2 separate regions of the Homo sapiens genome follow, and region 1 is linked to region 2. The links come from fine-mapping of genetic effects on gene expression. A gene starts in region 2. The other region holds a variant in brackets. All regions are shown on one strand. Distances are between the middles of the regions. Region 1 overlaps STAG1 (STAG1 cohesin complex component). Region 2 holds the start of NCK1-DT (NCK1 divergent transcript).

Region 1 (5,000 bases), 470 kb after region 2:
ATACCAATTCCCAAATAATCCATAATAACTGTTGCCCTTGGGAGAAGAAAGATAATTATATTGGGAGGAGGTGCTGGCAATGTTTTATTTCTTGATGTGGGTGGTGGTTACACAGGTATTTTTGCTTTATATTCATTAAGCTTTATACTCATAAATGTATATTTGATATGACTGTTTTCACATTAAAATACTTTAAAAGAAGTAGAAATTTTCTTATAAAATGTGGGTAAATATTTTAGATTCAGTTATTTCAACTATAAAATTTGGATAAAAATAATTTCATCAGTCTCCTTTTAAAAATTTGACTAAGTAAAATATTCATGACACTACATTTTTGTTTAAACATAGTGCTATTTCAATCTGTATTTATTCCCATATGTTGTGTCTTTATTCTCCAGATTGATACATTGGTTTGTCCTTTTTAACCAAGTATTTTATACATTCTCATTAATTATACAAAAATTTGGACTTGAAGCTATACTATAAAATAACAACTGTGATAAATATTATCTTAGCACGGTGCAAACAGATGATCTCATTTTTTTGAATTTTTCATTAAAAAAATTTTTTTTCATTTGATACAGATAGTCGTGCAAGCACTGCAGTGTTCCCATTATTCGATTCTTTGGCAGTTGGTGAAAATTACTGATGGCTCTCCTTCCAAAGTAAGTAAGAGTTTCTGTAGGCAGAAGGGTTATTACTGAAATAATAACCTTGCTTAACTATTTAATAATTTACTATTATCAGTTATTGTATAATATAAATTATTGTAATATTTAATAAAATATATGACTATTACCAGTTCTTGGTTTATCTTATGAGTAAGTATACATTTACCTCTTTGGGAAGAGCCAAAATCTTCAAGCAAAAGACACATAGTTATGTGTGTGTATATATATGTACACACACACACGGATTAAAACTTCTTATATAAAATCACTGTAGTAGACACAAGAGCTCTGATAGGTAACATGCTATTAAAAAGAATAACATTGAGGCCGTGCACGGTGGCTTACGCCTATAATCCCAGCACTTTGGGAGGCCGAGGTAGGCAGATCACTTGAGGTCAGGAGTTCAAGACCAGCCTGGCCAATATGGTGAAACTCCATCTCTACTAAGAATACAAAAATTAGCTGGGCATGGTGATGCACACCTGTAGTCCCAGCTACTTGGGAGGCTGAAGCAGGAGAATCACTTGAACCCGGGAGGTAGAGGTTGCAGTGAGCTCAGATCACGCCACTGCTCTCCAGCCTGAGCGACAGAGTGAGACTCTTGTCTGAAAAAAAAAAAAATACAAAAATTAGCCGGGTGTGGTGTTGGGTGCCTGTAATCCCAGCTACTGAGGAGGCTGAGGCAGGAGAATCGCTTGAACCCAGGAGGCAGAGGTTGCAGTGAGCCAAGATCGCGCCATTGTACTCCAGCCTGGGCAACAAGAGCAAAACTCCATCTCAAAAAAAAGAATAACATCATTGAAAGATAGTAGTATGATACCTAGAGACACAAAGTGAACAACCCTCTTGAAGTTAAAAACAACTTAAAATGTTGGGTAAATTTTTTTTTTTTGAATTTTAATGTATCCATGACCATGCAAAACAAAGAAAAATGTGGGCTAGGGATTAAATGAAAAAAAGTAAGATCAAGAAAGCCAAAAAGAGCACTGAAGCCTGCTTTACCTTGAGGATGTTTCTCAAGGTCCATCCAGGATAGAATGTCTCATAGGTGGCCACATCTCCCAGATAATTTTGGGATCCTAATGACCTGCTCTTACCACAGGGGTGAACTAGAAATAAACGCACTCCAGTTTCCTTCAGGGGCTGGGGGATTATAAGGAAAAGAGTCTGTCTTAAAATTTGTCATTGATTAAAATGGGGAAAAATAAATCTCCCATGAAAGTTTATGACTTAGCTTTTGCATAGGTTTTCACCTGAATTCATACTATTTTGATGGTAAAAAAAAAAGAAAGAAAAAAAGTTGAGATTTTGATTAAGTGTTCTATAATGGTGGTAATCCCCAACCACCTAACAGAATCAAATCTAAATATCTTCTGAAGGAACTTGCCTTAAAGAATTTTCCACAAGTAAAACCTTAAGCAAAATGAGCTCACAGCAAAAATATCACTCATGAAAACAACCATGAAGAGAATCAGACAAAAAATACTTCACATTGGAATTATCTGACACAAATATAAATGTTTCAGTTATTTCATGTAATGAGAGGCCTGAACATGACTAAGAAGTAAACATTTGATAAAGAACCAAATAAAGATATTAGTATGTTTGTGTATCTCCTCTTAACAAAACAAGCTGTTTAACCAGTAAAGATGAGTAATGCATTTGCATATAGAACAAACAGCTTGATATGGAGTGTTATTTTTTCAGAGTAAGAATTTTTTTTCCTTTCTGAGTAACAATTTGAGGATCTCTGCATTTAGAAAGTAGTAGGATTTTTAAATTCTTTTTCATTAGAAGAATGGTAATATATTGGTTAGCCTCTTGGTTTTTCTCTTTTATTAATAATTTCAGTCTTGAAAAACAAAAATAACAGTTAACCTTTTATTAGTAATGAAAGCCACTTTAAAACTGTGTTACAGCCTGGTGCGGTGGCTCGCGCCTGTAATCCCAGCACTTTGGGAGGCCGAGGCGGGCAGATCACAAGGTCAAGAGTTCGAGACCAGCCTGGCCAATATGGTGAAACCCTGTCT[C/T]TACTAAAAATACAAAAATTAGCTGGGTGTGGTGGCAGGCGCCTGTAGTCCCAGCTGCTTGGGAGGCTGAGGCAGAAGAATCGCTTGAACTCGGGAGGCGGAGGTTGCAGTGAGCCAAGATCATGCCACTGCACTCCAGCCTGGGCGATAGAGCGAGACTGTCTCCAAAAAAAAAAAAAAAAAAAAAAAAAAGGCCAGGCGCGGTGGCTCACGCCTGTAATCCCAACACTTTGGGAGGCCGAGGTGGGCGGATCACAAGGTCAGGAGATCGAGACCATCCTGGCTAACACAGTAGTGAAACCCTGTCAATACTAAAAATACAAAAAAATTAGCCGGGCGTGGTGGCAGGCGCCTGTAGTCCCAGCTACTCAGGAGGCTGAGGCAGGAGAATGGCCGGAGCCCAGGAAGTGGAGCTTGAAGTGAGCGGAGAGATCGCGTGGCTGCACCCCCGCCTGGGCGACAGAGCGAGACTCTGTCTCAAAAAAAAAAAAAAAAAAAAAAAACTGTGTTACACTGGGCCTGGCGGCTCACGCCTGTAATCGTAGCACTTTGGGAGACCAAGGTGGGCGGATCACCTGAGGTCAGGAATTCCAGAACAGCCTGGCTAACGTGATGAAACCCTGTCTCTACTAAAAATACAAAGTTAGCTGGGCATCATGGCGCACATCTGTAATTCCAGTTACTTGGAGGCTGAAGTACGAGAATCGCTTGAACCTGGGAGCTAGAGGTTGCAGTGAGCCAAGATCTTGCCACTGCATTCCAGCCTGGGTGACAGAGCGAGCCTCTTGTCTTTTTTTGAAATGTTATTTAATATAGTAAAGTCAAAGGAGATTGAATTTATATATTAAAATTTGATAGGAAGGGTTTAATGATTTTACACAATTGCTTTTATTCTCACCCTTCTGATTGAGTTTTAGATAGTTTTTCCCACAGACGTCATTTTTGTTGAGTTACTTGCATTTTGGCTAAATATTGATTATTGCATTTAGCAAATTTAGAATATGTTATTCCGTAAAAATTCAGCATAATTGATAGTTAATTCCTCCTTGTAAATCTATTAATAATTTAAATTTTGTCTTTTTTTTAATTGAGATGGAGTCTCACTCTGTCACCTAGGCTGGAGGAGTGCAGTGGTGCAATCTTGACTCACTGCAACCTCTACCTCCCGGGTTCAAGTGATTCTCCTGCCTCAGCCTCCAGGGTAGCTGGGATTACAGGCGCATGCCACCATGCCCGGGTTTTTTGTATTTTTAGTAGAGACTGGGTTTCACCACGTTGGCCAGGCTGGTCTTGGACTCCTGACCTCAAGTGATCCACCCACCTCAGCCTCCCAAAGTATTGGGATTACAGGTGTGTGCCACTGTGCCCAGCCTAAATTTTGTCTTTTTACAACTATATTCCATAATTGGAATGAGAATCTCTATTCTTCAATCGACTTCTTTGAATATTTTCTATTTTTTAATCTTTTTACAGCAGAATTATTTTGAAATTCCTTGCCTTTTTTGTCTGACACATTCTCCTAATAAAAGATAGTTTTATTTTTGTATTAGTCATATTACATATTTCATTGGCAATGCAGATTTTGTTACCAGAACTGATTTTGTTTTGTTTTATTTTTGAGACAGGGTCTCACCCTGGTTGCCCACTGTCACGGCTCACTGTGGCCTCAACCTCCTGGGCTCAGGTGATCCTCCCACCTCAGCCCCTGAAGTAGCTGGGACTACAAGTGTGTGCCACCACGCCTAGCTACATTTTTTTTTTTTTTTTTTTTTTTGAGACAGAGTCTCGCTAGAGTGCAGTGGCATGATCTTGGCTCACTGCAGTCTCCGCCTCCCAGGTTCAAGCGATTCTCCTGCCTCAGCATCCCAAGTAGCTGGGATTACTGGTGCCTACCACCATGCCTGGCTAATTTTTGTATGTTTAGTAGAGACGGGGTTTCACCGTGTTGGCCAGGCTGGTCTCGAACTCCCAACCTCAGGTGATCTGCCTGTCTTCGCCTCCCAAATTGCTGGGATTGCCTGTCTTCGCCTCCCAAATTGCTGGGATTACAGGTGTGAGCCACCACACCCAGCCACGCCTGGCTACTTTTTTATATTTTTTGTAGAGATGGGGTTTCACCATATTACCCAGGCTAGTCTCAAACTCCTAGACTCAAGCAGTCCACCCGCCTCAGCCTCCCAAAGTGCTGGGATTACAGGTGTGACCCACTGATTTTCTTTATGCCAGAAAGAATGCTGCAGCATCTTTTATGTGTTTTATTCAGTTAATTACAATTTATAGTTTTATGTGCATTTATAGC
Region 2 (5,527 bases):
GGCAGGCGCCTGTAATCCCAGCTACTGGGGAGGCTGAGGCAGAGAATTGCTTGAACCCGGCAGGCAGAGGTTGCAGTGAGCCAAGATCCCGCCACTGCACTCCAGCCTGGGCAACAGAGTGAGACTCCGTCTCAAAAAAAAAAACAAACAAAAGAAAAAGAAAAATATATATATATACAAAAAAATTAGCTAGGCATGGTGGCACACACCTGTAGTCCCAGCTACTTAGGAGGCCGAGGCACAAGAATCGATTGAACCCGGGAGGCAGAGGTTGCAGTGAGCCAAGATCGTGCCACTGCACTCCAGCCTGGGCAACAGAGACTCTGTCTCAAAAAAAAAAAAAAAAAAGAAAAGAAAAAAACCCAGAACCATGAAGTATCACTAAGTATCTCTTTTCTTTATTATTTTCCTTTTTAAATTTTTTTATATTTTCTTAATTTAGAGACAGGGTATCACTACATTGCTTAGGCTGATCTCAAACTCCTGGCCTCCAGCTATCCTCCCGCCTTGGCCTCCCAAGTGCTGGGATTACAGGCTTGAACTACCCCGCCTGGTCTCCCTCAGTATCTAACAAAACATTACACATAGGTTTTTTTTGTTTCTGTTTTTTTTTTGTGTGTGTGTGACGGAATCTTGCTCTGTTGCCAGGCTGGAGTGCAGTGGCGATCTTGGCTCACTGCAACCTCCGACTCCCGGGTTCATGCAATTCTCCTGCCTCAGACTCCCGAGTAGCTGGGATTACAGGTGCGTGCCACCACGCCCGGATAATTTTTGTATTTTCAGTAGAGACGCGGTTTCACCGTGTTGGCCAGGCTGGTCTCGATCTCCTGACCTCGTGATCCGCCTGCCTCGGCCTCCCAAAGTGCTGGGATTACAGGCGTGAGCCACCGAGCCCGGCCAACATTACACGTAGGTTTCAAATTTTATTTAGATGGACCTGAAAGCACTGCAGAAACCTGGACAAAGGATAATGCCTAGAAAAATAAATACACATTTTATTTATTTTTTTGAGACGGAGTCTCGCTCTGTCGCCCAGGCTGGAGTGCAGTGGCGCGATCTCGGCTCACTGCAAGCTCCGCCTCCCGGGTTCACGCCATTCTCCTGCCTCAGCCTCCCGAGTAGCTGGGACTATAGGCGCCCGCCACCACGCCCGGCTACTTTTTTGTATTTTTAGTAGAGACGGGGTTTCACCGTGTCTGCTAGGGTGGTTTCAATCTCCTGACCTCGTGATCCGCCCGCCTCAGCCTCCCAAAGTGCTGGGATTACAGGTTTGAGCTACCCCGCCTGGACTCCCTCAGTATCGAACAAAACATTACACGTAGGTTTCAAATTTTATTTAGATGGACCTGAAAGCACTGTCAAAACCTGGACAAAAGATAATGCCTAGAAAAATAAGTACACATTTTAAAATTTAATACATGAGCCAACAGCTGAGTAGATGTGAACACTCTGCAAACTATGTTTATGGATATTACAGCCAATTTCCACAGATCACAATTTTCCCAAAGAAGTCTCAGAGTTTGTGGTCAAGATGAAAAGAAAGCACCATTTATCAACCAGTGCATATTACTATCAAGTTGTGAATGGGATGCCTATTTAAGAATATCACAGACTCCACCCCCCACAAGAAAATTAAGTGTTTTAAAAAGAAAAGAACGAATATTATTGACAATTACCAAACAAAACTTTCTTCTTAGGTTATTTCTCCGTTTACTGTGTGACCTCGCCGAAGGCTGAGAGTCTAGGCACACTGGTTTCCAGGTGCTGAAGAAATCGTTATAGTTGGTTTGTCATACGTCTATCAAAGTAAAATTTTAAAAATGAGTACCTTTTGGCAACACCCGTTTTGGGAGGACATTGAGCTGCTTTGCTCCCTACCCAAAGAGGAGTTAGGAAATTCTCTTTAACCTAATTCTTTCCTAATTTCTAGGGCTTCTTACCTAATCTAACGTGCATAATTATTTTCAGGTGACTCCGGGTCCATCAGTTTGACACCGAGAGCGTTCCTACGGTTACGTCCTCACCCCTGAACAAAACCCAGCTTCCTGAGCTTCTAACGGCGAATTTAACTTGTATGTTAATACAGAAGAAAGGTTACAAAACCTATCGAAATGGTTTTTTGTTTTACCAAACATATTACAACTCAAGTCAAAAGTTCACAGCCCCAGCAACTCGCGTACGAATCTGAAGCAGGTCCAGACCATTAAAGTCACAGCCCCAGACTAGAAAACGGCCGGTGGGTGGGGGGAGGGGAGAGGGCGCGTCCCGAAGATGTCCACCCGCAGCACCGCGCAGGCTGACGCCTCCCCTCCTCTCGGGCTGGAGGTGAGAGCGCCCTTCCTCCTACCACGTCCCTACCTTCCCGGCCTCGGATTACGCCACAGCTGGCAAAAGGACTTTTTCATGAGAAAACAGACAAGTCAACCAGCGCGCCGCACACTCGACCTCCCAGGCTCGCACGGGCGGCCGCCCGGGCTCTCAGCCCGACACAGCGCTCCAGGGGCTGACAAGGAGGCCGCGGGGTCACGCTCCCTGGGGCAACGGCCCGAGGGTCTCGCGGAATCCCGGTGCAGAAGTCTGGACCCTCCGAGCAGCCTCCGCGCCCCCTCCGGCTCGGCTCCGAGCCTGCAGACGGCGCCCCCGGGGCTAACTCAGCGCGAGAAGAGGAAGCGACGCAGCGAGTAACAGGCTGTATGGACGGACAGCGGACTGAAGGGGGGTGTGTGTGTGTCTGCCTGCCAACAAGGCCGTCTCACCTTCCCGCTGCCGAGCCGGGCAGCTCCAGCTCACCTGAGGAGGGCTCCAGGACGCCACTGCGGCCGCCGTGATGGCCGTAACGGCACGAGGCCTGCGCTCCGCCGCCGCCGCGTAGCTCTTGGGAGAGAGGCGGGGCACGCGCGGTGGGCAGGCGGATCCGCGCGGGCAGGAAACCCACTCTGGACCCAATCTGATAGGTTCAGTCGCCCCCTTCCCCGGTCCCTGACGCGACAACGGTCTCTGCCGCACTGGGATTGGGCGGGCCCTCATGTCAATCAAGCGCCGTGCCTGATGTGGAGGGAGCGGAGGCTGCGCGGCGGAGAGTAGAGAGCTAGAGGGTGAGAAGCGCTGGGCCGGACCAGAACTGTCTTAGCTTTTCCCTCTGCGGCTGCTCTGGTTGGTTACTTTGAGCCTGCCTCCTCAGCGCCGCAGGAGAGACTTAACAGCAAAAATGACTGTGTCCTGAGTTCAGCCCCCACTGCTCTGGGAGCTTCCCCCTGGTTTCTGCACCTGAAGAATGTCATCCCAGCCGAAGGTTCTTAGGAGCGGGGAGCGACAAAGAAAAACAAAGAAAAGCAGACCTGAAAATTGGGACCTGGGAGAAATGTAAGACATGTGCTTAATTTGAGGCACAGACCAAAAGAAGCTGAGTCTGAGGGCCCTCTAAAAGTGTCCTCGTGCTTGGGCAGCTTACATTCTTGGCGGCAGTAGTGTTATGAAGAGGACCTTCGGAGCCAGGTCTGTCCATTCTTAGGGCTCCAGCCACTGGCTGAGGCATCAGTAAGTTGGTTCTTCCCCTCGCCGGTGCTGCAGGCCCCCTTCCCCGCCCCCGCGCCGTAACCTGCCTCTTTTTTTTTTTTTTTTGAAACGAGTTTCGCTCTGTCGCCAGGGTGGAGTGCAGTGGCACGATCTCGGCTCACTGCAACCTCCGCCTCCGGGTTCAAGCTATTCTCCTGCCTCAGCCTCCCGAGTAGCTGGGATTACAGGCATGTACCACCACGCCCAGCTAATGTTTTTGTATTTTTAGCAGTGACGGGGTTTCACCAGGATGGTCTCGATCTCTTGACCTCGTGATTCGCCAGCCTCGGCCTCCCAAAGTGCTGGGATTACAGGCGTGAGCCACCACGCCCAGCCGCCTCATCTCTTCTTAACCATCTTTGTGGCACAGTTTAGGATCGCTCCTCAGGGAAGCTTGCTCAGTTAGGTACCTTCCTTGGAGCACAGGTGTTTTCTCCATCCGAGCTATTGAAATGGTTTGCCTGTATGTCTACCTAGATTGTAAACTCCGTTGAATCAGTAACCATGTCTGTTCAGTTTCTCCCTAGGGCCTTGCAGTAGGGTAGATGGTCAGTAAATACTGTTTAAGGCATTAATACTTTTTATTTTAATCCTGGCCCTGGATATCAGCCTCAAAAGTTTGCAGTTTTCTGCATTTAACTTCAAAATTATTTACGTGATTGGTAATGCATGCATGTGGTTGGCCTGTGCTGTAATTTAGATGTTTGTTCCCCTAAACCTCCTGTTGAAATTTGATCCCCAATGTTGGAGGTGGGGACTAATGGGCAGTGTTGGGTCATGGAGGTGGTTCCTTCAGGAATAGATTAATGTCCTCCCTGGGGAGAGGGTAAATGAGTTCTCTTTATTTCCACCAGAGCTGGTTAAAAAGAACGTCGCACTTCCTTTCTTCTTTTGCGTCCTCTCTGGCCATGTAATCTCTGCACACACCAGCTCTCCTTTGCCTTCTGGCATGAGTAGAAGCAGTCTTAGGCTACCATCAGATGCAGATGCTCAGTCTTGAACTTTTCCAGACATCAGAACCATAAGCCGAAAAACCTTTTCTATTTCTAAATTATCCAGCTTTGGGTATTCCTTTCTAGCAACACTAAAGGGACTAAGACAGCCTGCCATATGTAGGATCACAAGGTCAAGCACAAATTTACCTATTTATGCTGTACTATCCTCAGGTTGACTGGGACAAGTAGACCATGAAACTGGGCAACAGCTACTCTATGTCTACATTCTGTTATTAGCATCCAAAGTGAATAATGGCGGTGAATTTTGAGTTTATTCTAAGGGTTTAAATAACTGCATATTTTATCATGACTGGTATGGACTGAATTGCATCCCCCCCAAAAATTCATACTGAAGCCCTCACTCCTAATGTGACTATATAAATGTTCCTTAACTTACAAAGGGGTTATGTTCCAATAAACCCACCATAAACTGAAAATACCTTAAGTTGAAAAGATCTTAAGTCAGAAATGCATTTAATGCTTCTAACCTACCAAACATCATAGCTTAGAGTAGCCTACCTAAAACATGCTCAGAATACTTACATTAGCTTTCAGTTAGGCAAAATCATCTAATACAAAGCTTATTTTTTAATAAAGTATTGAGTATTTCATGTAATCTACTAAATACTGAATGAAAAACTGGATGGTTTTATGGGTACTCAAAGTACAGATTCTAGAGTGCATATGGCTTTTGGACCATCATAAAGTCAAAAAAATCTTAAGTCAGGGACCATCTCTAGTTGGAGCTAGGCCTTTAGGGAGGTAATAAAAATTAAATTAGGTCATAAGGGTGGGGCCCTAATCCCATAAGATTAATGTCTTTATAGAAAGTGGCACCAGAGAGCTCTCTCCATTTGAGAACACAGCAAGCAGACAGACATCTGCAAGCCAGAGAGAGAGCCCTCACCCAAAACTGACCATGCTGGCACCCTCTTTTGGACCTCCCAACCTACATAACTTTGAAAAAATAAACTTCT

Evidence for each region. PIP is the estimated chance that this variant, and not a neighbour inherited with it, causes the effect. A credible set is the group of variants that fine-mapping cannot tell apart.
Region 1: its variant is the best candidate, but not a certain one, in a credible set for the expression of NCK1-DT in skeletal muscle (GTEx, PIP 0.60).

The regions. Positions count from the first base shown.
Region 1 is chr3:136,394,414-136,399,413 of GRCh38, reverse strand. It overlaps STAG1 (STAG1 cohesin complex component), which reads left to right. Exons shown (of 34, transcript NM_005862.3): 22 at 585-665. Among named protein-coding and RNA genes, the nearest start is that of PCCB, 150 kb to the right of the region's middle. The variant C/T (reference allele first, on the strand shown) is at 2,702.
Region 2 is chr3:136,859,583-136,865,109 of GRCh38, reverse strand. NCK1-DT (NCK1 divergent transcript) reads left to right here and starts at 3,047. Exons shown (of 3, transcript NR_110177.1): 1 at 3,047-3,363. It overlaps NCK1 (NCK adaptor protein 1), which reads right to left and starts at 2,902. Exons shown (of 4, transcript NM_001291999.2): 1 at 2,757-2,902. RefSeq lists enhancers at 2,034-2,153, 2,164-2,243, 3,304-3,363, 3,924-3,973 and a silencer at 2,884-2,943.